Linked DNA regions of Homo sapiens. The protein of the gene in region 2 purifies or fractionates together with the protein of the main gene of each other region. This does not show direct contact. Each region holds a gene or a part of one and is shown on either strand. Other genes may lie near its edges. The genes, in order: HARS1, PPL, MAP7D1, USP16, ECI2, G6PD and OLFM4.

The links.
Region 1: the proteins of PPL (region 2) and HARS1 fractionate together in Homo sapiens (co-fractionation; one large-scale study listed by BioGRID). This does not show direct contact.
Region 3: the proteins of PPL (region 2) and MAP7D1 purify together in Homo sapiens (affinity purification with mass spectrometry; one large-scale study listed by BioGRID and IntAct). This does not show direct contact.
Region 4: the proteins of PPL (region 2) and USP16 purify together in Homo sapiens (affinity purification with mass spectrometry; one large-scale study listed by BioGRID and IntAct). This does not show direct contact.
Region 5: the proteins of PPL (region 2) and ECI2 purify together in Homo sapiens (affinity purification with mass spectrometry; one large-scale study listed by BioGRID and IntAct). This does not show direct contact.
Region 6: the proteins of PPL (region 2) and G6PD fractionate together in Homo sapiens (co-fractionation; one large-scale study listed by BioGRID). This does not show direct contact.
Region 7: the proteins of PPL (region 2) and OLFM4 purify together in Homo sapiens (co-immunoprecipitation; one large-scale study listed by IntAct). This does not show direct contact.

What each region holds. Positions count from the first base shown.
Region 1 is NC_000005.10:140,684,871-140,688,370, forward strand, and holds part of HARS1 (histidine--tRNA ligase, cytoplasmic), read right to left. Parts: intron 1-3,500. UniProt on the Homo sapiens protein: Catalyzes the ATP-dependent ligation of histidine to the 3'-end of its cognate tRNA, via the formation of an aminoacyl-adenylate intermediate (His-AMP). Plays a role in axon guidance.
Region 2 is NC_000016.10:4,888,649-4,892,148, reverse strand, and holds part of PPL (periplakin), read left to right. Parts: coding exon 1-114; intron 115-199; coding exon 200-338; intron 339-1,227; coding exon 1,228-1,421; intron 1,422-1,814; coding exon 1,815-1,965; intron 1,966-3,087; coding exon 3,088-3,171; intron 3,172-3,500. UniProt on the Homo sapiens protein: Component of the cornified envelope of keratinocytes. May link the cornified envelope to desmosomes and intermediate filaments. May act as a localization signal in PKB/AKT-mediated signaling.
Region 3 is NC_000001.11:36,166,160-36,169,659, reverse strand, and holds part of MAP7D1 (MAP7 domain-containing protein 1), read right to left. Parts: intron 1-3,500. UniProt on the Homo sapiens protein: Microtubule-stabilizing protein involved in the control of cell motility and neurite outgrowth. Facilitate microtubule stabilization through the maintenance of acetylated stable microtubules.
Region 4 is NC_000021.9:29,038,168-29,041,667, reverse strand, and holds part of USP16 (ubiquitin carboxyl-terminal hydrolase 16), read right to left. Parts: intron 3,334-3,500; coding exon 3,238-3,333; intron 2,643-3,237; coding exon 2,512-2,642; intron 2,188-2,511; coding exon 2,100-2,187; intron 1,060-2,099; coding exon 981-1,059; intron 1-980. UniProt on the Homo sapiens protein: Specifically deubiquitinates 'Lys-120' of histone H2A (H2AK119Ub), a specific tag for epigenetic transcriptional repression, thereby acting as a coactivator.
Region 5 is NC_000006.12:4,125,576-4,129,075, forward strand, and holds part of ECI2 (enoyl-CoA delta isomerase 2), read right to left. Parts: intron 2,257-3,500; coding exon 2,187-2,256; intron 663-2,186; coding exon 560-662; intron 545-559; exon of another isoform or gene 1-544. UniProt on the Homo sapiens protein: Able to isomerize both 3-cis and 3-trans double bonds into the 2-trans form in a range of enoyl-CoA species. Has a preference for 3-trans substrates.
Region 6 is NC_000023.11:154,536,847-154,540,346, forward strand, and holds part of G6PD (glucose-6-phosphate 1-dehydrogenase), read right to left. Parts: intron 1-3,500. UniProt on the Homo sapiens protein: Catalyzes the rate-limiting step of the oxidative pentose-phosphate pathway, which represents a route for the dissimilation of carbohydrates besides glycolysis.
Region 7 is NC_000013.11:53,031,813-53,035,312, reverse strand, and holds part of OLFM4 (olfactomedin-4 precursor), read right to left. Parts: intron 966-3,500; coding exon 813-965; intron 1-812. UniProt on the Homo sapiens protein: May promote proliferation of pancreatic cancer cells by favoring the transition from the S to G2/M phase. In myeloid leukemic cell lines, inhibits cell growth and induces cell differentiation and apoptosis.

The DNA.
Region 1 (3,500 bases), on a different chromosome or scaffold from region 2:
TCCAAAACAATTTAGTGAGAAGAGTGGCACTGATTTACATCTTTGCAAATCTTTAATGTCTGACTGAATAGAAGACAGCAGGATTCTCATATGTGATTTTTGCATTCAATCTGTCGTGATATGTCGTGCTGGTTGAAGTATATAACGAAAATCTAACCTTACACAGATATGTAGTTGTAAAAGGAAGAGTATTTTAACAAACTTTTCAGCTAACTGTGGATATTTTTCTTTGGTACTACATCAGAATCCAACAAGTGGTTGTTTCTTAAAGATTGGTTGCAATGTGGAATTTGAAAGCTAGATCAATGAACTTAAAAAAAAAAAAAAAGAACAATTAGTCTCTCACTTATCTAGTACCTAGAATAGTCAAATCCATAGAGACAGAAAGTAGAAAGTAGGATAGCAGTTACCAGGGGCTGGAGGGAGGGTGAAGTGGGGAGTTATTGTTTAATGGGTACAGAGTTTCAATTGGGGATGATGAAAAAATTCTGGAGGTGGATAATGGTGATGGTTATGAGTATGAATGTACTTCATGTTACTGAACTGTACACTTAAAAATCATTAAAATGGGCTGGGCGTGGTGGCTCACACCTGTAATCCCAGCACTTTGGGAGGCCAAGGCAGGTGGATCACGGGGTCAAGAGATCGAGACTATCCTGGCCAACATGGTGAAACCCCATCTCTACTAAAAAATACAAAAATTAGCTGGGCGTGGTGGCACACACCTGTAGTCCCAGCTACCTGGGACGCTGAGGCAGGAGAATTGCTTGAACCCAGGAGGTGGAGGCTGCAGTGAGCCAAGGTCATGCCACTGCACTCCAGCCTGGTGACAGAGTGAGACTCTGTCTCAAAAAAAAAAAAAAATCATTAAAATGGTAAATTTTATGTTACGTATATTTTCCTACAAAAAAAAATCCACTACTGTATTTTGTACTTTGAATGAATGGATCCTTTGCCTGTGCATGATTTCATAACAGGTCTTTCAAATGTTGATACATTTCATTATACAATATCAGGAAGCCTTATTTATTTACATCACTTCAGATCTCATCAAGAAAGTCTTTTTTTTTTTTTTTTGAGATGGAGTCTCGCTCTGTCACCCAGGCTGAAGTGCAGTGGTGTGATCTCGGCTCACTGCAACCTCCACCTCCCAGGTTCAAATAATTCTCCTGCCTCAGCCTCCTGAGTAACTGGGACTACATACAGGCGCGTGCCACCACGCCCGGCAAATTTTTTGTATTTTTAGTAGAGACGGGGTTCCACCATGTTAGCCAGGATGGTCTTGATCTCCTGACCTCATGATCCACTTGCCTCTGCTTCCCAAAGTGCTTGGATTACAGGCATGAGCCACCTTGCCTGGCCTGTTTTTATTTGTTTGTTTGTTTTTGAGATGGAGTCTCACTCTGTCACCCAGGCTGGAGTACAGTGGCGTGTTCTCGGCTCACTGCAACCTCCACCTCCCAGGTTCAAACGATTCTCCTGCCTCAGCCTCCCAAGGAGCTGGGATTACAGACGTGAGCTACCATACCTGGCTAAATTTTTATTTTTAGTAGAGACAGCGTTTCACCATGTTGGCTAGGCTGGTCTCAAACTCCCGACCTCAGGTGATCCGCCCACCTTGGTCTCTCAAAGTGCTGGGATTACAGGCGTAAGCCACCACACCCAGTAGAAAACTCTTTAATTATTGGGAAGCTGTCAAGCTTATGATGGAAGATGCAAGTTTTCTAAAATTCTTTTTTTTTTTTTTTTGAGATGTAGTTTCACTCGTTGCCTAGGCTGGAGTGCAATGACGCGATCTCGGCTCACCACAACCTCTGCTTCCCAGGTTCAAGCGATTCTTGTGCCTTAGCTTCCCTAGTAGCTGGCATTACAAGCATGCGCCACCACGCCCAGCTAATTTTTAGTAGAGATGGGGTTTCTCTATGTTGGTCAGGTTGGTCTCAAACTCCCGACCTCAGGTGATCCGCCCGCCTTGGTCTCCCAAAGTGCTGGGATTATAGGCTTGAGCCACCATGCCCTGACTAAGTTTTCTAAAATTCTAACTTTCACCTGAATACTTGAATTTTTTCACTGCCTACAAGTACTGTCAGATGTTTTCCTTGAGGTGACGAGGCTCACTTCGTTTATTGTTGTAAAAATGTCTGCCAAATATTTAAGTTTGAAAAACCATAATTTATCTTTCAGTTGTTAATTCAAATAAAACAAGATGTTCTATGAAAAAAGTAGCTAGATCAGCTTGCAACTTGAACAATGGCATAAGCATTTTCCCTACCTTGGCGTGCAGAAGTGCTTTATGTGTACTTCCCATTTTGTCATAGCAAATATTTAAAAATAGGGTCCTCAAGGGTCAAGATTCAATAAAATCAGTAAGTTTTTGGCCAGGCATGGTGGCTCAGCCTAGCACTTTGGGAGGCCAAGGTGGGCAGATTGCCTGAGCTCAAGAGTTCCAAACCAGCCTGGGCAACATGGTGAAACATGTTGTAGGTTTCTTGTATGTTTTTTGTATTTCTGTAAAAATACAAAAAATTAGCTGCATGTGGTGGTACCCGCCTGTAATCCCAGATACTCAGGAGGCTGAGGCACAATAATTGCTTGAACCCGGGAAGTGGAGGCTGCAGTGAGCCAAGATCGTGACACTGAACTCCAGCCTGGGCAACAGAGTGAGATTCTGTCTCCAAAGAAACCCCAAAACAAACAAAGTTTTACCATTTTATCAATGACATAGTTAAGTAAAACTGAATTTTTTAAATTAATTAATTAATTAATTTATTTATTTACTTACTGTGAGTGCATGGCAGTGAAGAACACACTGGCTATTAGTACAGTTTAGTGTCACTGTCTTAATGTATGCTAAGGCACCAGCAGTTCTACTCACCAGCGCTTTTGTGCCTTCAGTGCAAATGTTAACACAACGAAAAAGGCAGATAATGTCTTAGAATTATTATAGAAGGGCCAGGCGCAGTGGCTCACGCCTGTAATCCCAGCACTTTAGGAGGCCGAGGTGGGAGGATCACTTGAGGCCAGGAATTCAAGACCAGCGCAGCCAACACGGTGAAACCCCATCTGTACTAAAAATACAAAAAATTAGCTAGGTGCGGTGGCACATCCCTGTAGTCCCAGCTACTCGGAAGGCTGAGGCAGGACAATCGCTTGAACCCGGGAGGCGGAGGTTGCAGTGAGCTGAGATCACGCCACTGCACTCCAGCCTGGGCGACAGAGCAAGACTCCGTCTCAAACAAAACAAAACAAAACAAAACAAAACAAAACAAAACAAAAGAATTATTATAGAAATAGTTTTGACCATGAAGATCCCTTGAAAGAGTCTTGTCCCCACAATACTGAGTTTTCTATTGTTAATACTAAAATGGATATTAACTCTCTAGCATAATCTTAACACTATAGTATGGAAATTTTCAAAGACACAATATAGAGAATAGTATTACAGGTCACCATTTATCCATTACCCAGCTTCAACAACCATTAACATCTGCTATTCTTAT
Region 2 (3,500 bases):
CTTCATCCAGGCCCTCCCAGGCAGTGGCACCACACCCCTGCTGAGGACCCGGGTGGAGGACACCAACCGGAAATACGAGCACCTCCTGCAGCTGCTGGACTTGGCCCAGGAGAAGTGGGTGGCAGACAGGCAGCATGGAGGTTGGGGTGGGGTCAGGGGGCCAGGTGGGCATCCCCCGACGCCTGATTGGTGCTCTCAGGGTTGATGTGGCCAACCGCCTGGAGAAGAGCCTGCAGCAGAGCTGGGAGTTGCTGGCCACACACGAGAACCATCTGAATCAGGATGACACAGTGCCTGAGAGCAGCCGTGTCCTGGACAGCAAGGGGCAGGAGCTGGCGGTGAGTCTAGGGCCCAAGTCCTGGGAGTCCTTCTCTGAGCAGGTGAGAGCATCTGGCACATCCACCCGCCCGTCTGGATAGATGAGGACACCAGCATCCAGTCTCCCCAGGTTTGGAATGCCCAAATTGGGAACTGCAAATGGAGGCCCACAGCACAAATCCAAGCTATTCACGGGATCTGTGTGACTTACGGGATTTCGGGTGCCAGCATTTTAAGATCAAATATCTGCAATAGCCAGTGTAGTGGCACATGCCTGTAACACCAGCCATTCAGGAGGCTGGGGCAGGATTGCTTGAGCCTTGGAGTTTAAGTCCAGCCGCCTGGACAACGTTGCAAGACCCTATCTCTTAAAAAAAAAAAAAAAAAAAAAAAAGCATAAAGCACATAACAATCCATGTTCCCAGTATCTCTTGCTGAGCAGAGCTGGCATCCTGGGCTGCAGCTCAGAGGGCAAGTCAGTGGGCAGAGGAGCAGCTGCCTTCTCGGCCTGCTTACCTCGCAGTTGCCACGGGCCCCCTTCCCACACTGCCTGAGCACAGGAAACATTCAAGTCTGTGACCTGAGGCCCCTTATTCACACTCCCATCTCACGACTTGCTTTTGCCACAGCCTCATGACCAGACAGTGGCAGGCTGTTCTCGCGCAGGGCACGAGCTGCCTGCTGCAGGGTTTTTAGAAGTTAGCTTTTCAGGGCTTTGTTCATTGTTAAAAAACAGAAGATGGCAGAAGTGACCCAGGTTTGGGATGTACAGAGCAAGGCTCCGGTCCTTCCTACCTGTGGCCTTGCCCACCCTCCTACAGTCAGTGGCCCAGGGGCTTCAGTGGGTGTCATCGCCTGGCTCTGGGAGCTCTGGCCGTAGCACCGCCGTCTCCTCCTCTGCCCCGCCAGGCCATGGCCTGTGAGTTACAGGCCCAGAAGTCCCTCCTGGGTGAGGTGGAGCAGAACTTGCAGGCGGCCAAGCAGTGCTCGAGCACACTGGCCAGCCGCTTCCAGGAGCACTGTCCGGACCTGGAGCGCCAGGAGGCCGAGGTGCACAAGCTGGGCCAGCGTTTCAACAACCTGCGCCAGCAGGTGGAACGCAGGTGAGGGTGCGGTGGGTGGTGGCCATTTTTGTTTTCTGAGAATGCGATCTAATTCCCTCTAAGCAATGCTTTAGCCGTGTCCCACAGATTTTGCTGTTTTTCTTTTTGGTGAGTTCGTCAGATTCTCTGACGGCCCTGTGGTCTCTCTTTTGAGTCATGCTTACCTGGGTCCTGTAATCCACAATGGGCATCTCTGCAAGTCAATGTATATGGACCCACCTGGTTCTCCACAGTCCAACCTGACGTTCCCTAATGACCACCCACCCTGTGTGGGAGATACTTGGGGTATTTCTGGTTGTTACATTTGGTTGTTTCCCACTTTAAAAAAAAAAATGAGGGCTCGGTGAGGCATCTGTTTGCTGTGGCTGAGGCCTGAACGCTTTGCCTTGACAGGGCGCAGAGCCTACAGAGCGCCAAGGCAGCCTACGAGCACTTCCACCGCGGCCATGACCACGTGCTGCAGTTCCTAGTCAGCATCCCCAGTTACGAGCCCCAGGAGACAGACAGCCTCAGCCAGATGGAGACCAAGCTGAAGAACCAGAAGGTGAGATGGCCGTTTCCGCAGCCCCAGGCACACACTGGCAAGGGAGGGTCAGAGGTCAACAAGCCCCTTTCTGGGGAGCCAAGCCTTTGGGAGGTGGAGCAGGGCAGAGGCCTGCCACAGCTGTGTCCTCCCTGGGCCTCAGCTCAAGCTCCCAACACCCAACCCTCTGAGAACAAGAACCGAGTGTGTCGCTCACCTCTCCCAGCTCAGTGCCCCGCACAGGGCCTGGTGCAGAATGGACACTTGGCGTGGGTTGGCTATGTGAGTGAACAGCTACAGAATGAGGAGCCGCCTTTGTGGGGGAAATCCCATTTTCAAAGTTGGGACTCCTGCCTCCCCCATGCCCAACGCAGTGCCTTGGGGTGAGGGAGGAACACGGGAAGCCAATGGCTGAGATGCAAATCCCGGGTCCACCCCATCAGCCACATCCCCACCTCAGAAGCTTTCCTCACTCATAAGCTGGAGGTCACGATGCTTACCTCCTGGCATCGTTTGAAGATTAAATGAGATAATCTAAGTCAGACAGCAGAACAGTGTCTGGTGGTCCAAATCATCAGTAAACATTTGTTTCCTAGCAGAGATAATGATCTTGGCCCTTCTTCACAGAGCCTTAGAACTGCCTTTTGTGGCTGGGCGCGGTGGCTCACACCTGTAATCCCGGCATTTTGGGAGGCTGAGGCAGGAGGATCACAAGTTCAGGAGTTCAAGACCAGCCTGGCCAACATAATGAAACCAAATCTCTACTAAAAATACAAAAAAAAATTAGCTGGGTATGGTGGCAGGAGCCTGTAGTCCCAGCTACTTGGGAGGCTGAGGCAGGAGAATTGCTTGAACCCAGGAGGCTAAGGCTGCAGTGAGCTGAGATCGCGCCACTGTACTCCAGCCTGGGCGATGCAGTGAGACTGTCTCAAAAAAAAAAAAAAAAAAAAAAAAAAAAAAAAACAACAACAACAAAAAAACTGCCTTTTGCAATGAATAAAAATGTATACAAGGGAGCCATTCATCATACTTTGTGCTAGAGAAGAATAAATTCAGATTCTGAGATTTCCAGCTACTGCATCCATGGTTGCTTTTTTAAATTTTTTTTCTGGTTAGTTTTGATTTTTAAACTCTGTCTTACAGAACCTGCTAGATGAGATAGCAAGTAGGGAGCAGGAAGTACAGAAGATCTGTGCCAATTCCCAGCAGTACCAGCAAGCTGTAAAGGTGAGCCGGGAAACTTCCGCCCAAAGCACAAACAGCAGGGGTCTTATTCCACCGTGCCCTGGTCAGAGAAGCAGCAAGCACCGGCCCTGGCACATGGGGGTGGAGCTGGCCATCCGAGGCACTGCCGGCTGCTGTGCAAACTGGCACAGGCTTTTGGGAAAACAGCATGGTACTAGACATGGAATGCTGTAAAAGGGTTTTATACTCTGAAGCAGTAAACACTTTGGGGGAATTTATCCTTAAGGAAAAAGTACAAAAAAAAAAATGCAGGATAAACAACATTGTTGCAACAGCACTATTTACAATAGCAAAACTAGTACGCTGGAAAG
Region 3 (3,500 bases), on a different chromosome or scaffold from region 2:
CTGAGGAGATCAATGGGAACACAGCTACCAACTTGCTTAGGGAGCAGGGCCGGCATCTGTGGGAAGCTTCATCTAAGGAAACATTTTTCTTTTTTTTTTTTTTTGAGACGGAGTCTCGCTCTGTCACCCCGGCTGGAGTGCAGTGGCGCAATCTGGGCTCACCGCAAGCTCCGCCTCCTGGGTTCACCCCATTCTCCTGCCTCAGCTTCCCGAGTAACTGGGACTACAGGCGCCCGCCACCACGCCTGGCTAATTTTTTGTATTTTTAGTAGAGACGGGGTTTCACGGTGTTAGCCAGGATGGTCTCAATTTCCTGACCTCATGATCCGCCCGCCTCAGCCTCCCGAAGTGCTGGGATTACAGGCGTGAGCCACTGCCCACCGCGCCCGGCCTTTTTTTTTTTTTTTCAAGACAGAGCCTTGCTCTGTTGCCCAGGCTGGAGTGCATTGGCACGATCTCGGCTCACTGCAACCTCTGCCTTCCAAGTTCAAGTGATTATCCTGCCTCAGCCTCCCAAGTAGCTGGGATTACAGGCACCTGCCACCACGCCCAGCTAATTTTTGTATTTTTAGTAGAGACGGCGTTTCACCATGTTGGCCAGGCTGGTCTCGAACTCCCGACTTCAGGTGGTCTGCCCGTCTCGACCTCCCAAAGTGCTGGGATTACAGGCATGAGCCACTGCACCCGGCCTTATATGTTATTAGTTTTAATCCTCACTGACAATAGTTATGAAGGAGTCCTCATATAGATGAGGACAGTAAAGTAAAAAAAGATGAAGCAAAAAAAAGAGGTAATTTGAGATCATTCAGCTGGTCAGTCAGGGAGCCTGGACTTGGACCCAGTAGCCATCATCAGAGCCTGTCCTTACCCATTATACCCTCCTGCCTTGTTGAAGGCAATATGAGGGAATAGGTGTTACGCAATAAATTATCTGAGGCTCACACTATTTTCCGCCTCATTCCTTCCCATCCAGCTTGCTAGGATCCAGGCAAGAGCCCCAGCTGAGGCCCTGTCTTCCCCATTACCCCTCCAACTCCACCAACTCCACCAACTCCTAGGCTACATGACAAGCCACCCATCTCTTCCCATACCAGCAGGAGACGGCTGCCTGGTCACTGCTAATCTATTTCCCAGCCAACTGCAAACTCCTTTACCAATTCCAGTAGTCAACAAAACCAGTTACTCACTCTAGTGAGTGCTTACTACTCACTAACAGTGGTGCACCCTGTGTCCTCGCAATTCTGAGAGGCAGAGATTCTTATCCCCATTATACAAGTGTGGCAACCAAGGCCCAACCTGCAAAGTGATCCACACAGAGTCATAGAACTAGTATGTGGCAGAGTTGGGCTTTTTTTTTTTTTTTCCTGAGATGGAGTCTCACTCTGTTGCCAGGCTGGAGTGCAGTGGTGCGATCTCGGCTCACTGCAACCTCTGCCTCCCAGGTTCAAGCAATTCTCCTGCCTCAGCCTCCAGAGTAGCTGGGACAACAGGCAGGCACCACCACACCCAGCTAATTTTTGTATTTTTAGTAGAGACGGGGTTTCACCATGTTGGCCAGGCTGGTCTCCATCTCTTGACCTCGTGATCCGCCCTCCTCAGCCTCCCAAAGTGCTGGGATTACAGGCGTGAGCCACCGCACCCAGCCTAGAGTTGGGATTTGAACTCAGGACTGTCTGAAGCCAAAGCCTGGGTGTGTAAGTATTAAGCTTGAAGGTTGAGGGTGAGGTCTGTTTATTGCCATTCTCCAAGCACCTGTGCGTGCTGCAGGTGTTGCAAGGAAAACTGGTAGGCGGGTGTTTGTCTACACCTAGGCAAATCACACCCACCAGGCAAGACAGTCAGTGAGTCCCCAGCAAGGTCCTGACTCGCTATGTGAAAGGAGGCTGGGAGGAGGTAGAGGAGTGAGGCTTGGAAGAACCTGCACCCAGGCATCAGATGCAGTGGAGCAGAAAGGTCACAGGCTTCAGAGTCTGACAGGCCTGACTGAGGACCTCGGCTCCCGGCGAACCTCGGGCAAGCCCTGAGCCTGTGTAACCACAGTTCCCTCATGGAGTTGTTGGCACACATGGGGAGTTGGTACAGACGGGTACATCATCGGTGGCACCTGGCAGGGGCTTGGTAAGCAGCACCTGCCCCGAAGAATATATCCACGTCTCCTCATCTCTGCCAGGAGGAAATGCTTCAGCCAGGCCTTACCCCCACTGCTCTGCAACATTGCACTTCTCAAGGACACCCGTGACCTCCATGCTGCTAAATCCAGCAGGCAGTTTTCCATCCCTCATCTTCCTTGGCCACTATGCAGCTGCATCTGCCACAGTTGATTTCTGACTGCTCCTTGAAACACTGTCTTCACCTGGCTTTGAAGACAGCACATTCTCCTAGTTTTCCTTCTACCTTGCTGACTGTCATTTCTCAGTCATCTTTGCTGATCCTGCCTGAACTTCCCAACCTCTCAGCGCTGGAGTGCCCTAGGGCTGAGTGGAGGACCTCATTTATTTTCTATCCACACGCACTCCCTTGGTGACCTCATCCAGACTCACAGATTTAAATACCATCACTGCTGACGACAACCAAATTTGTGTCTCCAGCCCAGGCCTCTCCCTTGAGGTCTAGTTTCACTCATGCAACTCCCAGCTGCTTGACACCCCTGTGTGTCTCAAAGATGCCCCCAATTTAACACATCCCAAACTGAGCTGCTGATCTTCCCCCAAAAGCCTGCTTCTCCCCATTTTCCCCATCTCAGTTAATGACAACTACATCACACCTCATGTCTAATCTCTCAGCAAATCCTTCTGCCTTTATCTTCAAAACAGATCTCAAATCTAATCATTTCTCACTGTCTCCACTTCTATCACTTGGATCAGAGCTACTATCAGCTCTGATAAAAGACTCCCTGCTCCAGTCTTTGTTCCCCCTGGGTCTTTTCTCAACACAGTAGCCAGAGTGATTCTGTTTAAAAATAAGTCAGATTGGCCGGGTGCGGTGGCTCACGCCTGTAATCCCAGCACTTTGGGAGGCCAAGGCAGGCAGATCACGAGGTCAGGAGATCGAGACCATCCTGGCCAACACGGTGAAACCCCGTCTGTACTAAAAACACAAAAAATTAGCCAGGCATGGTGGCAGGCGCCTGTAGTCCCAGGTACACAGGAGGCTGAGGCAGGAGAATTGCTTGAACCAGGGAGGTGGAGCTTGCAGTAAGCCAAGATAGCGCCACTGCACTCCAGCCTGGGTGACAGAAGGAGACTCTGTCTCAAAAAAAAAAAAAAAAAAGGTCAGATCACGTCACTCCTCTGACAAAATCCTGCAATGATTCCTCATTTGAGGGGAAGAAAAAGCCAAAGTCATCATGATAGCCTATTAAGGACTCCCCAGGATCCTGACCTCTTCGACCTTGTCTCCTCTTCTCCCCCTGCTCAGTTTTTCAGCCACTGTCCCTTAAGGGTGTTGGGGAGATTTCTGCCTCAGGGCTTTGTACTGAGGAAACAATATTTCCTCAGTGG
Region 4 (3,500 bases), on a different chromosome or scaffold from region 2:
GAATGACAGCCTAGTTCCTTAGTTCTAGCTCTAACATTCTAACATTCAAGACTGATAAAAGATACCAGAGTAGCAAACTGGGAGAGAAAATGCATGTAACTTGTTTTGTGAACTCTAAGACTGAACTCCTTTGATATTTTAAAAACAAAAGAAAAACCTCAGGAAAATATTTCAAACAAAATCTTCCTTTTATTTTCCTATGCTCCCAGAAATAATCTTGATAAGTTTAATATAACTAAAAGCCATAATTTTACTACTTGATCAGCCAATTTTCCAAATACGTGAAACCTATAAGCATTATTCAAATGATAATTTATGCAGAACCACACTTTTCTGACAGAAAATGCCAGCAGGGGTAATTCTCTCCATTACTGGCCAGGCTCTAAAGGGCACCAAGGAGGCAAAGAGTTGCTATGAGTTGATTCAAATCTGTGCTTTATAATACAGTGCCCTTAGTCACTTACGGCTATTTAAATTTAATTACAATTAAATAAAAATAAAAATGTAGTTCCTCAGTTTCACCAGTCACATTTCAGGCGCCACACGTGCCTAGTTGCTTCTATATGGAACAGCAAAGGTATAGAGGAGTTCCATCAACATAGGAAGTTCTACTGGGCAGATCTGCCCTAAATCTTTACACGCCACATAATAAGAACTAAGTTGGCTCCATGATTAATAAACCAACTACTGACAACTCACAGTAACAAATATAATTCATGTATTACTGCTAATTATAATTTTAAGCTTTTGAAAAGTAAAACTGTAATTCATCATAGTTCTATCTTTAATACATAAAAAGAATACACCATGGGGTAAAACTGTTCACTTCTGGAGCACTGAATAATTTTTACTAATCAACGTTGATAAAGAGAAATTATACATTAATAATTGTGGACTTGGAAATATATGTGCCAGCAATCTTGTCCTAAGGTACAGAGGAATTCAACTATAGTGTTTTAGTTCAAAAAGTCAGACATTACCTTTAACTTTATTTTTTAGTTCTTCATCCAACTTTTCAGTAGAATTACCAAATGCTTTAAGTATTCCTTTACTCACTCTCTAAAAGTAATAAAATGGATATATATATACTATTAAATTTTAAATTTTATTTTCCTTAGAAATATGTAATCAAGTCAAGAAAGTGATCAGGATACAGCTCCCCATATTTACTAAATAATTCCAAAATCACATTTTCAAACTTAATTCAAGGAGCTAAAAAGGAATTATGTCACAAAGCAATCACTAACCATTGAATAAAGGTATTATCTTATCATTTCAAGATCTTAAACCTCTTCAAGCCAAAGGTTTTCAGAACATGCCCACCACCTTTGAGAAGAAACTGAAATAGCTTGTCCTACAAGCACAATGATTACATGACAGCCACAGGGTCTGACTCCAGTGCTTAAAGCCCAGCTCCATTATTTCTGGGGGACCTTAAACTAGGTACTGAACTTCTCTACAGCCTAGATTCTCAATCTATGGAATAGGAAAAAATCACAGTATCCACCTCACAGAAACTTTGTGAGAACGAAGTAAGGGAATTAATACAAAACACTGAAAACAGTGATTGGCATAAAAATAAGTGCGAAATAAATATTAGTTATTATCACTATTATTAGTACTCATTAATTCATACCCCAAATACATTTTTTTATATCCTGGCAAGTAACAAAAATTTTAAAATGCAACCAATGTTCCCTGACTCTTACAAAATGAAAATACTTCCTAGGTTCAAAAAACAGTATTAAATCAGACTCAGAATTAAAAGTAAGGGTGTGCTGCACCTGGGTTTGGGAGAAACAATTTCCAATATTTGGCAGCTCTCTTCGTATAGGTTAGTACAACAGAATCTTTAAAGAACATTAATGCTGTAAACATCAACTAAACTTAAGCCATCATGAGAAAGAGAATTACTGCTAATTCTCTGGATTCATTCTAATGGTGAAAACATACTAGTTGAAAAAGCTGGTGTAAGAAAAAATTTTAAAGTATGATGGCCTTAATAACTAGCTTTCATTGTTTTAACTCGTAAGATATCAAATGAGACAGAAAGCTTATGAAGATAAGATCATAAAATACAATGGTCATAACATGCTAACTTGGTGTTCTTCTGCTCTCATCCCATCCAATAAGTAGCGAAGCAGCTCCTGGCTGTCTTGCTGCTGATAGCCTTTAAACCGCACTGCTCTAGAGAAAAACAAAAAGACAGAAAAGCAATCTTCAGTCTACTAAGCTCTGAAGCTATTTTTAGAAAATCTTAGGATCATATCCCAAATCTCAGAGAGTTCTGGTTTCTACAAATTTCCGTTTAGTCCATTAACACCCTTGGGAGATTTAACTATCACATAAAATATATTTTAAAATCCAAATGAAAAAAAACTATGCCTTTTGTATATAGAGGGTTGACTAAATGTAATGCTATTAATATTTTTATATTTTACTATTTAATATTAATATTATTTCTCAGCATCTCACTGAGGCACTGAAAGCACAATCGAAGTGGATACTCACTTTTTACAGACCTGAGAAAAGAGTTCTTTCGGTGTCACAACCCCCTTTTTGGTCTCTTGCATCTCATTAAGAAACTGGCTCATGGCTAAAGTAAGAGGGCCTGGAGGCTCAAGGTTTATTTCTAATGGTTCCTGAATATGGGAAAAGAAATTACTTTCTTCAGTCAAATTCTGGAATCACTGACTTTACTAAAATCTAATTAGTTAACATATACTACCAATGTTCCTGACAGAACTGCCCCATTTAAAAGTTTAAAATGTACATCAAAAGAGATAGAAACTGTTTGGTCACAGACTGTCTTATGCAGAATTCAGCTCTACTATTTTAGTTTTAGATTATCTGGAACACTTACTACCTAAGAATTGAAAGAGCCAAAGCAAAATGTAAATAATAAAAATGGATAAGGTAATATTTATTTGGTTACACAGCTCTTAAGTCACCTTAAAGATGTTAAAAATAATAATGTAAGCCTAAGGCTTCTCAAACATATACACATTCCCAAGAAGGAAGCTTAACACTCGAGCATAGAAAAACAGAGCACACACACAGCAAACAGATGTAATGCCTCCTTATAACTTCTATTAGCCTGAAACTGTTTAAGTTAGTAGCCTAAAGTAAAACAAAACAAACAAAAACAGTGGAAATGAGTGTCAGTTATTTAAAATAATTTAGAAAACACACATTCAGAGAGGAAAGTTACAGACTAGAAAAGTTTAAAGAACATACTGTTAATGCCAAATCAGGTGGTTCAATTTTTACAATTGTTCCAGACATTTTCACTTCTTTTAGTAGTTCTCTAAGCACTGGTGTTTGTGACAAGTTCTAGAATGTAGGGTGAAAAAAAAAGAGAAAAATTATTTAAAGGCAAATCAACTCTGACACTTCTTAAGTGTCTATTCTATCAAAACAGAAAATCATGACCAACACTGAAAACTCTATACTTGGAAAATGAAAAGTTACAGATGCTTCTCTCCCTACTCTATTTGGGT
Region 5 (3,500 bases), on a different chromosome or scaffold from region 2:
AGACCAACCAGTGAGACCTATGGGTCAACCCTGGTTTGAATCTTGTATTCTGGACAGTGAGTTCAGGGCTGTAAACCAGCCGCAGTCTTAGAGATTAGGTTGGGTGACTGAGCACATGCTGCAATATCACAACAAGTGGGAATTACAGATTTGGCAGGAATAAAGAGAAAAGCCTTCATGACCTCCTCCTGTGTTTACAAGACTCCTCCGAGTCTCCTACCTTCAGCGTTCATGGAAATCTCCCATTCCTCTGGCTGGATGAGAATTTGCTAAATTCCTCTGCCTCAGTGCAAGATAATTTTGTTTACAACTATAGCTCACTTTTATGTTTTCCAGTCAAATCTCATGAGACCAGCAGGATGAACAGGTAACAGAGGTCAAAGAGAAAGAATGAATGCCCACCTATGGATGGAGGCAGTTTAGAGAAATATGCTTGTCCAAAGTCACAATTAACTGCACTGACACAGAGAAGCAGATATTGCACTTTTGCTCAACTAAATACCACTTTGATGACTAAGAACGGGCCCTCTGGGATCAGACAAAGGTCAGTAACTCTTACCTCAGTAAAACGGCATTATTTTTAGCTTTCTCCTCTACTCCACCAGGGGGAATATCAGTGAAGTTAGTCAGATCATTCCCACTACTGTAATAGTCACCATTTCCTATAAGTAAGAAAATCAACAGATCCCTCATTCAATCATCCTATAATTCTTGAGTATCTACTGCATGCCAAACTCTATGGTTAGGCAAGGGAAATACATTGGAGAACGAGCAATGGTTCCTGCCCTAACTTACAAACTAGTGAGTACGCTGGACACTGATCTATAAAAACACACCGATAAATGTAGCTAATGCTACTGTTGAAATAGAGGAGTGGTGCGTCATGAAATGAGGGTATGTACCAGGAGGGTTGGTCTAATCAGGGAGTTCAGGAAAGAACTTTCCTAAGGAAGCGACAACTGAATTGAGATCTGAAGGAGAGGCCAGGTGGGCTAGAAAAAGAGGGCTGGGAAGAACAGTTTACACAAAGGAACAGCCTGTGCAAAGGCTCTTTGGAGAGGTTATCCCCACTGTAGATGAAGTAAGAGCCACTGTAGCTGACTCAGGGAAAGCCAGGGGGAAGTCGGTGCAGGATGAGGACTGGCAGAATAGACCTGACAGTGCTTTGTAGATCCCATGAGGAAGTTTTTTCTTTATTCTAAGAGCCACTGAAAGTATGTTTCTGAGTGTGTGTGTTTAATTAAAGTACAATTTATATACAATAAAACAACCAGTTTTTAAATGTTCATTTAGATGAGTTTTAATAATTTTAAATACCCACAAGATCACCATCCAAAACAAGATACAGAACATCTCCATCACCCCAAAAGTTTCCCGTAGGCTCCTTCCTAGCTATCCCACCCCACCTGCTCCAAGGCAATCACTTTCTGACTTCAATTTCCACAGAGAAGAACTTTTGTCTACTGTAGAACTTTCTACAAATGGACTCATACAGTATGTACACTCCTGTCTTTATTTTGCTGAACTGTGTTTTAAAGATGCATCCACATTCTTGTGTATATCATTTATTCCATTTTATAGCTGAGTATTCCATTGTACAAATAGTCAACAATTTGTTTATTCATCCATGTGTTTTTGAACATTTGTTTTCTGGTTTTGGCCGTTATAAATCAGGTTACCATGTCTGCTCCTGTAAAAGTCTTTTGGTGGACATATGTGTCTTAATTGATGTTGGGTAATTGCGAAGGAGTGGGTATCTGTGTTTTTTTAAACATTTTTTGTATATTTATAAATCAGAGTATGACAGTACTGGAAAAGATCTTAGAGCCTTTTTTTTTTTTTTTTTTTTTTTTTTTTGAGACAGAGTCTCACTCTGTTACCCAAGCTGGAGTGCAGTGGCGCGACCTCGGGTCACTGCAAACTTTGCCTTCCAGGTTCAAGTGATTCTCCTGCCTCAGCCTCCTGAGTAGCTGGGATTACAGGTGTGTGCCACCATGCCCGGCTAATTTTTATATTTTTAGCAGAGATGGGGTTTCACCATGTTAATCAGGCTCATCTCAAACTCCTGACCTCGGGAGCCACCTGCCTCGGCCTCCAGGTCTTAGAGCTTTTTAACTCAATTTCCTATCTATTAAGAGGCCCCTCAAAATAGAAATTTAATTAGGATGCCTGAGAAAATGTCTTACCTGTTAAAACAGTGATGATTGAGTCATCCTTGCTGGCAGCTTTAAGTGCACGCATAATTTCATGATACATCTGTGTAATGGGAAGACAAGGAAAAGAAAAGAACTCTGAACACAGGAATCATCAATCAATGGACTCAACAAATGTCAGGCTGCAAGCTTGCTCTCAGCAAAGTGCCTAACATTTATTTTGGTTGTATTTTATAACCAAAAAGGTGGACCAACATAACTGAAGGAATTTTTATTCCTTTCACAGTTACCTGGTGCATATTATGTACCTGGTGCTATGGCAGGAGCTGCAGGCTATAAACCACTTTTTTTCCAAAAGGGACCAAGAAAGAAATAGTCCTTGAGCTTTTGGAATTAACAGAGGACTTAACATGTTCAATTTGGAATTAACATGTTCAAATGAGGAGGGGGTTGGAAAGTACAAAGTAGCAGGGAACTCAGAGGAGGTGCTGAGGCTTATCTAGTGTGGGCAGAGTGGGAGGTGGTCAGAGAAAACTTTCTACAAAGCAACGTCTCTGTTGTGACCTCAAGGAAGCCCCTGGCAGTCTGGGAAGTGTTAGTGACTGCCAAAAGGCTGGAATTTTCAAGACACTGTAATGGTATTCAAGGAAGGTGGCTCAAAATTTTAAATCAGCAACATTTCTGAAAATCTTGGACAAGCAGCTATATAGCTTTTAATGCATTTAAAACAGGTGCAATTTCAACCTTAGATGAGATTTCAGTGTGGGAAAGAAATGAGGAAGAGGGCTGATACTTATAGATACAAATATACTGGAAAAGACACATGGACTTTACATAAAACAGCCTGCCCTCCGTATCCACGGGTTCCACATCCATGGACAACCAATCACAGATCAAAAATACCTGGAAAAGAATTCTGTATCTATACTGAACATGTACAGGCTTTTTCTCTTATCATTAGTCCCTAAACAATACAGTATAACAACAATTTAATATAGCATTTACATTGTATTCAGTATTATAATAACTCTAGAGATGATTTAAAGTATATGGGAGTGTATATAGAGGTTATATGCAAATATTATGCCTTTTTATGGGGGACTTCAGGTTCCGCGGATTTTGTTGTCCACACGGAGGTCCTGGAACCAATCCCCATCGGATACCAAGGGATGACTGTACATGAATAAGCGTTTAAGCATTTCTCCTGAGGGAAGTGATAAGGAACTCATTCTATCATTATTATAGTTATGATAACACCACACAGCAGGGCGACTGGTGAGACCAGGATTAGGAGATGGATTATCAGGGTTCCTTCCTTCCAACTGGTGAGACCAGGATTAAGAGATG
Region 6 (3,500 bases), on a different chromosome or scaffold from region 2:
AAAAGATAGAACTGCAAGCCAAATTACCAGGAAGAAAATAGGAAATAATGACAAGTAAAATTAATAAAATTAAAAGCTAACCCAAAGAAAAGATGAACAAAGCTGGAAATTGGTGTTTGAAAAAGACGAATAGAAACAGACAACCCCCTGGCATGGTTGCTTTTTTAAAAGGGCATAGGCCGGGCACAGTGGCTTACTCCTGTAATCCCAGCACTTTGAGAGGCCGAGGCAGGCGGATCAAGAGGTCAGGAGATCGAGACCATCCTGGCTGACACGGTGAAACCCCGCCTCTACCAAAAATACAAAAAATTAGCCAGGCGTGGTGGCGGGTGTCTGTAGTCCCAGCTACTCGGAAGGCTGAGGTAGGAGAATCACTTGAACCCGGGAGATGGAGGTTGCAGTGAGCCAAGATTGCACCATTGCACCCCAGCCTGGGCGACAAGAGTGAAACTCCGTCTCAAAAAACAAAAAACAAAAAAACAACTAAACAGCTGGACGCGGTGGCTCAAGCCTATAATCCCAGCACTTTGGAAGGCCGAGGCGGATGGATTACCTGAGTTCGGGAGTTCAAGACCAGCCTGACCAACATGGAGAAACCGTTTCTACTAAAAATACAAAATTGGCTGGGCATGGTGGCCCATGCCTGTAATCCCAGCTACTCAGGAGGCTGAGGCAGGAGAATCGCTTGAACCTGGGAGGCGGAGGTTGCAGTGAGCCAAGATCAAGCCACTGCACTCCAGCCTGGGCTACAAAAGCGAAACTCCGTCTCAAACAAACAAAAAACAGAGCAATGGACCTGAGAGGGGACAGTGGCCACAAATCTTCCTACAGAAACAACCCCCTGGCATAGAGAGTGTTGCCAGTGGGTTCTACCAAAATGCAAGCACAAGAGAATTCCAGCCTGAAGCAAACTCTTCCTGCAGAAGGAAGAAAGGGGAACACTTCCCAAGCCACCTTATGGGGCCTACAGAGCCTTGGTACGGAAACCTGATGAGAAAGGCACATGGGAAAACCCATACGCCTCATTCACACACACATGCAGATGCAGAAATCCCACACGAAATATCAGCAGGCCGGGCACAACTCACACACCCCAGCACTTTGGGAGACCAAGGTGGGAGGAAGATTGCTTGAAATCAGGAGGTTTTTTTTTTTTTTTTTTTTTAAAGACATGGTCTCACTCTGTCACCTAGGCTGGAGTGCAGTGGCACGATCTCAGTTCACTGCAACCTCTGCCTCTGGGCTCAAGCAATCCTCCCACCTCAGCCTCTGGAGTAGCTGGGACTACAGGTACATGCCAACACACCCAGCTAATTTTTTGTATTTTTTGTAGAGACAGGGTTTCCCCATGTTGTCCAGGCTGCTCTTGAACTCCTGGGCTCAAGTGATCTGCCCGCCTCAGCCTCCCAAAGTGTTGGGATTACAGGCGTGAGCCACGACGACCCACTGACCCTGTCTCTTTAAAAAAAAAGAAGAAAACATCAGCAAACCAAATCCTGCAATGTTAAAAACGGTAGGTTTTTTATTTACAGAATAAATACATCTGTAAATAAAAAGTTGGTTTGATATTAACAGAAAAAAATCATTGAAATTCACCATATTAAGAGATTAAAAAAAACCTCTAAGAACTCTCTGCCTACTGCTATGTTTTGATTTTTTAAATCTAGCAATCTTGCTCAACCCAACAGATGTAGATCAAGTGTTTCAGAAATCACCTATTCACGCTAAAACTCTTAGCAGAGGGGGAATGCAAGGGAACTTCACTAACTTGATAAAGGGCATCTATAAAACACCATTCTGGCTGGGCGTGGTGGCTCAAGCCTGTAATCCCAGCACTTTGGGAGGCCGAGGCGGGGAATCGCTTGAGGTCAGGAGTTTGAGACCAGCCTGACCAACATGGTGAAACCCCATTTCTACTAAAAATACAAAACTTAGCTGAACATGGTGGTGTATGCCTGTAATCCCAGCTATTCAGGAGACTGAGGCAGGAGAATCGCTTGAACCAGGAGGGAGAGACTGGAGTGAGCCGAGATCACACCACTGTAGCCTGAGCAACAGAGCTAGACGTCGTCTCAAAAAAAAAAACCACCACCAAAAAACAAAGAACAAAAAAACCCCCAAACCATCATCCTTACAAATACTACAAATATCACACTTATAGGAAATGCTGAAATATTAATCATCCCTTTAAGCAATCAGGAACAAGAAAAGTGCAGTAAGGCAAGAAAATGAAAATGGCTGAAGTTGAGCTGTGAGGTGGTGCGGGTGCTCCCTCTGATCAAGTGAAACACACACCTATCCTGTGACCTGGCCGTTCCACCCCAAGAGAAATGAAAGTGCAAGTCCACACAAAGACCTGCACACGAATGGTCACAGCAGCCTTGGTTCATAGCGGCCCCAAACTGGAAACAAGTCAAACACTTGAATTAACATGTGACCCGGCAAACTGTGCATTCATACAACGGATACTACTCAGCAACACTGGGAAATCTCAGCATCAGAGATGCAACCCATTGTGACAGAAATCAGATCAGCGGTTGCCTGGAGCAGGGCAGATTGGCTGGGAATGGGTACCCAGGAACTTTCTGGGGAGATGACGATGGCCTTTATTGTGATGAGGGTGTACAGCCAATTGTACAGTTAAGATTTGCGCACCAACAAAAGACGGCGAGAAAACCAACAATGGAGCGGAGGGTGGGGAGTGGGTCAGAAATGACCCTTTGAGGGCCAGTGACTGTGAGAGCCCCAGGTGAGGGGGCTTCCTGGGTGCAGAGCATATTCTGTTTCTTGATCTAGGAGCAGTTTCTGTGGCTGTGCTGAGTTTGTGAAAAGTCATCAACAAGCTAGACCTGCACCATCTGTGTTCTTCATGACATGTATTTCTTTTTTTTTTTGAGACGGAGTCTCACTCTGTCGGCCAGGCTGGAGTGCAGTGGCGTGATCTTGGCTCACTGAAATCTCCACCTCCTGGGTTCAAGCCATTCTCCTGCCTCAGCCTCCTGAGTAGCTGGGACTCCAGGCACCTGCCACCACGCCCGGCTAATTTTTGTATTTTTACTAGAGATGGGGTTTCGCCATGTTGGCCAGGCTGGCCTCAAACTCCTGACCTTGTGATCCACCTGCCGTGGCCTCCCAAAGTGCTGGCATTACAGGCGTGAGCCACCGTGGCCGGCCCATGACATATATTTCAATAAAACATGGTAAAAACTAATAGTCTGGGCGTGGTGGCTCATGCCTGTAACCCCAGCACTTTGGGAGGCTGAGGAGGGTGGATCACCTGAGGTCAGGAGTTCGAGACCAGCCTGGCAAACATGGTGAAACCCCGTCTCTACTAAAAATACAGGCCAGGCGCGGTGGCTCATGCCTGTAATCCTAGCACTTTGGGAGGTTGAGGTGGGTGGATCACGAGGTCAGGAGATTGAGACCATCCTGGCCAACATGGTGAGACCCCGTTTCTACTAAAATACAAAAAATTAGCTGGATGTGGTGGTGCGCGCCTG
Region 7 (3,500 bases), on a different chromosome or scaffold from region 2:
AAAATAAAGAGACTACAACCTTGGATTTCACTTGGAGAAAATAGAAAAAAATAAAAGAGACTACAACTTATTGTCACAAAAAAAGAGAGTGAGGGGGAGAGAGAAGGAAGTGAGCAATTTGTAAAGATAAAAAAGGGTTAAAGGAAAGAGAGAGGGAGGGAGGAGGATGAGAGGGAGAGGATTTGAAGGAGTGGAAGTGGAGGAAGGGAAAAGAAGGAGGGAAAAAAAGATCATCTAAAAGTAAGAAAATACCCAAAAATGTCCCCCCCAAAAAAGAATTAACCAGGAAAGGAAAAGAGAGATTAGAAGGGATGAATAAGGGCAAGGATTGAGGCAAGAGAAATAAGAAACTAAAGGATGCAGGAATGGAATAGAAATAGAAGAAAAGGAAAAAGAGAAGGGAGATAGAATAGAACTAAAGGGGATAGAGGAGAAGAAAGAAAAGAAAGCAAAGCTTGAGGAAAGACCTAGAAGACCAAAAGGAAGAAGCAGCGTCAAAACAAAATAAAAATTGCAGGTTGGGGTTTGCAAGGAGAGCTCAAGGCTTCTTTCCAACTGCCTAAGTACCACAATACTATAGTGAGTTTATCCACGGCGTGAACAATTTGAACCCCACTTTCTTCCTGTGCTCTCATTTTCCCTGCCTTAATAAGAACTCCATTGGTGTCCTATAAAATAAATACTAAAATCACCATAGAATAAAAACGTGATGTCTTTGATAGTGAAGAATGATTGCTTATAAAATCCTAAATTAAAACACATTTTGTTTTGTTTCTCTTTATCAAGATATTGTTTGAAAAGAAAATGCTTACTTTGGAAAGTTCTTTCTCAAACTTCTGAGAAAGAACATGAGCTGTGAATTCCAAGCGTTCCACTCTGTCCACGGGAAAGGTGGTGTCTGGCAGGGAAACAGAGCACTGGCAGGTCCCACGGTCATCCACGGAGCCGGTGAAATTGGAAAACAACTGCAAATAATAACAAGTTGAACATCAATAACAAGCTGGAATCTGAGCTTTTGGCAACTGGAGTGACAGAAATTGGCTTGTCGAGAGTACTTACAGGCAAGTAAGTGGAGTCCAATACATAAATGAATAGAATCATAGAAACAAGCTAAAACAGCTTTGTTTTCACAGGTGGGGACCACCCAGCGTTTAGCCACATCGCCACTGGTTGTACGAAAACCACTACGCCAGCAGACTTTACCTAAAGGAAGATTCCCCATTCTCGAGGCTTTTTTTTTTTTTTTTTTTTTTTTTGAGACGGAGTCTCACTCTGTCGCCCAGGCTGGAGTGCAGTGGCGCGATCTCGGCTCACTGCAAGCTCCGGCTCCCGGGTTTACTCTATGCTCCTGCCTCAGCCTCCCAAGTAGCTGGGACTACAGCCCGCCACCACGCCTGGCTAATTTTTTGTATTTTCAGTAGAGACGGAGTTTCACCGTGTTAGCCAGGGTGGTCTCGATCTCCTGACCTCGTGATCCACCCACCTCGGCCTCCCAAAGTGCTGGGATTACAGGCGTGAGCCACCGCGCCCGGCCATTCTGGAGTCTTAAAGGAGATTATTCCTATCTCTATGCAAGGAAAGGGAAATAAAGAAGCTATGAGAGTGCTAAGTTTGAATTTCAATTCTAGCACTTGCTAGATGTGAAATCTCCTTAATTCTTAGTTCCTTCATCTGTAAAATAGAGATAACCTACTTCACAGGGTTGTCCTCAGTATTAACGAAGTAATGTGAGCCAAGTCCCTGGCACAGAGTAGGTGATCTGAAAATGTCACATTCTCTTTCCTTCTACTGCTCATTTTCTCTTCCTCACCTTCACCCCAACCCAATCCAATTCCTTTTCATCAGAATGAGGGAATCACCAAAGATGTGGGCTACAGTGAAAATATATGATGCAAATTCATATCCTCTCATCGCCTGGGAAATTGCAAATTAACATCCTTCAAAATGGGAACCAGCCATTTGTTAGAAAGTGAATAGCGTATGAGCTTGAAGGTTTTGTGCAATTTTTTTTAATAAAAGTTTTTTTCCAGCTTACCATTTGCAGAAAAAGTCATTTTAAAATATTTTATGTTCATTTAAGATATTCAGACTCACACTTCAGTGCCACCGCATATTTTTAAATGACACTTTTGAAAGATCCTGTTTTTCTTTTGTCCCCTTTGAACTTCCCCAAGAGGATCCCAGCACAATTAACATTTTTTTATTACTACTATTGCCTTACAGAGTAACCCTTGGCAGCCAATTTGCTGTGCCTTTTAATGATCTCATCTGAAAGCCAACCCAAAGCTCACCTGTGGAACATCAGCCTGAAGGGACTTTTTATGAAACCTCTAAGGAGACAGCAATGGTCTTCAGAGCCAGAAGTGACTCTGGCCATGTCTCTCAAAGTTCAGGTCAGCCAGCTGCAGGTGGTGTAATGGGTCCTGTGCATTTAATGGCCACCAACCTCCATAATGCCTGATCAAGCTGGGTCTAGATGCTTCTATAATGAAGACTTATTTTATCACTGGCCTCGGGGCCAATCAAGGCTTTTGCATCTAAGTTGTTTTTAATTTAATTTAAGTTTCAAGATGAGCAGAAAAAAAAAATATGTGTGTGTATCCAATCATATTTTTTATGTGTTTAGTCAAAATTTATTACCTTGGTCTCAATTTTCTTTTCCAATCACATCCCTACGTGGGAAACAGTTCAGGAGTAGGGAGGAGAAACAAGCAGATTTATGTCGAACATAGGGGTGGACAGCAGGGTTTGAATAGGGGAAGGGTCTTTGCCAGAGATGAATAAAGACTCGGTAAGATACACCAGGAACCTATCAGAGAGGCCAGCTTCCCTTGAAACCAGCTTTACTCATTTCTCCAAAGATAGAAAGACTCCAACTCAAGCATGCCAAGGCTTTTACAGAAAAGACCGACATATCAAGGACTTTTGAAGAAATAGCTTATTATAATAACAGTCTAGCAAAAAAAAAATCTTGCATTGCATTTTAACAAGGGGAGTTTAATTAGCTGCACAAACAGGGTTGGGCCATTCTCAGAGTTCTCTGAAAAATTCTGCCAACTCAGAAAACAGTGGATATCATCAAGCAATCTCTAGACAGTCAATTAGGAACCACTAGCTAACAACTTTTAGTCCTGAAGTTCACTTGAAAGACAGACAAGTAATTATGAGCCCTGCTGTCAGCCATTCCATCGGTTTCTATTGAACATCTCTGTCCCAAAGCTGTGGACTCCCCCAGCTTCCATCCTGCTTATCATCAGCCCAGCATGCTCAGCTGACATCAAAATGGTCCATAAGTTTGATCAGTGTCTCCCATTAGAGATATTTCTGCTCCTCGCATTCAAAGACAATGAAGCTAATGGTGATGAGTCTCTCTCTGCGGTGAATGCCCAAACTCTACATGAATGAAGCATGGGGGATGGGAGACAAAGACAAGAGCTTGTCCCCTTGGCCTTTGGAAGAATATGCGATTCCCCTTCTGTAGGGCAAATAGGACCCTGAGT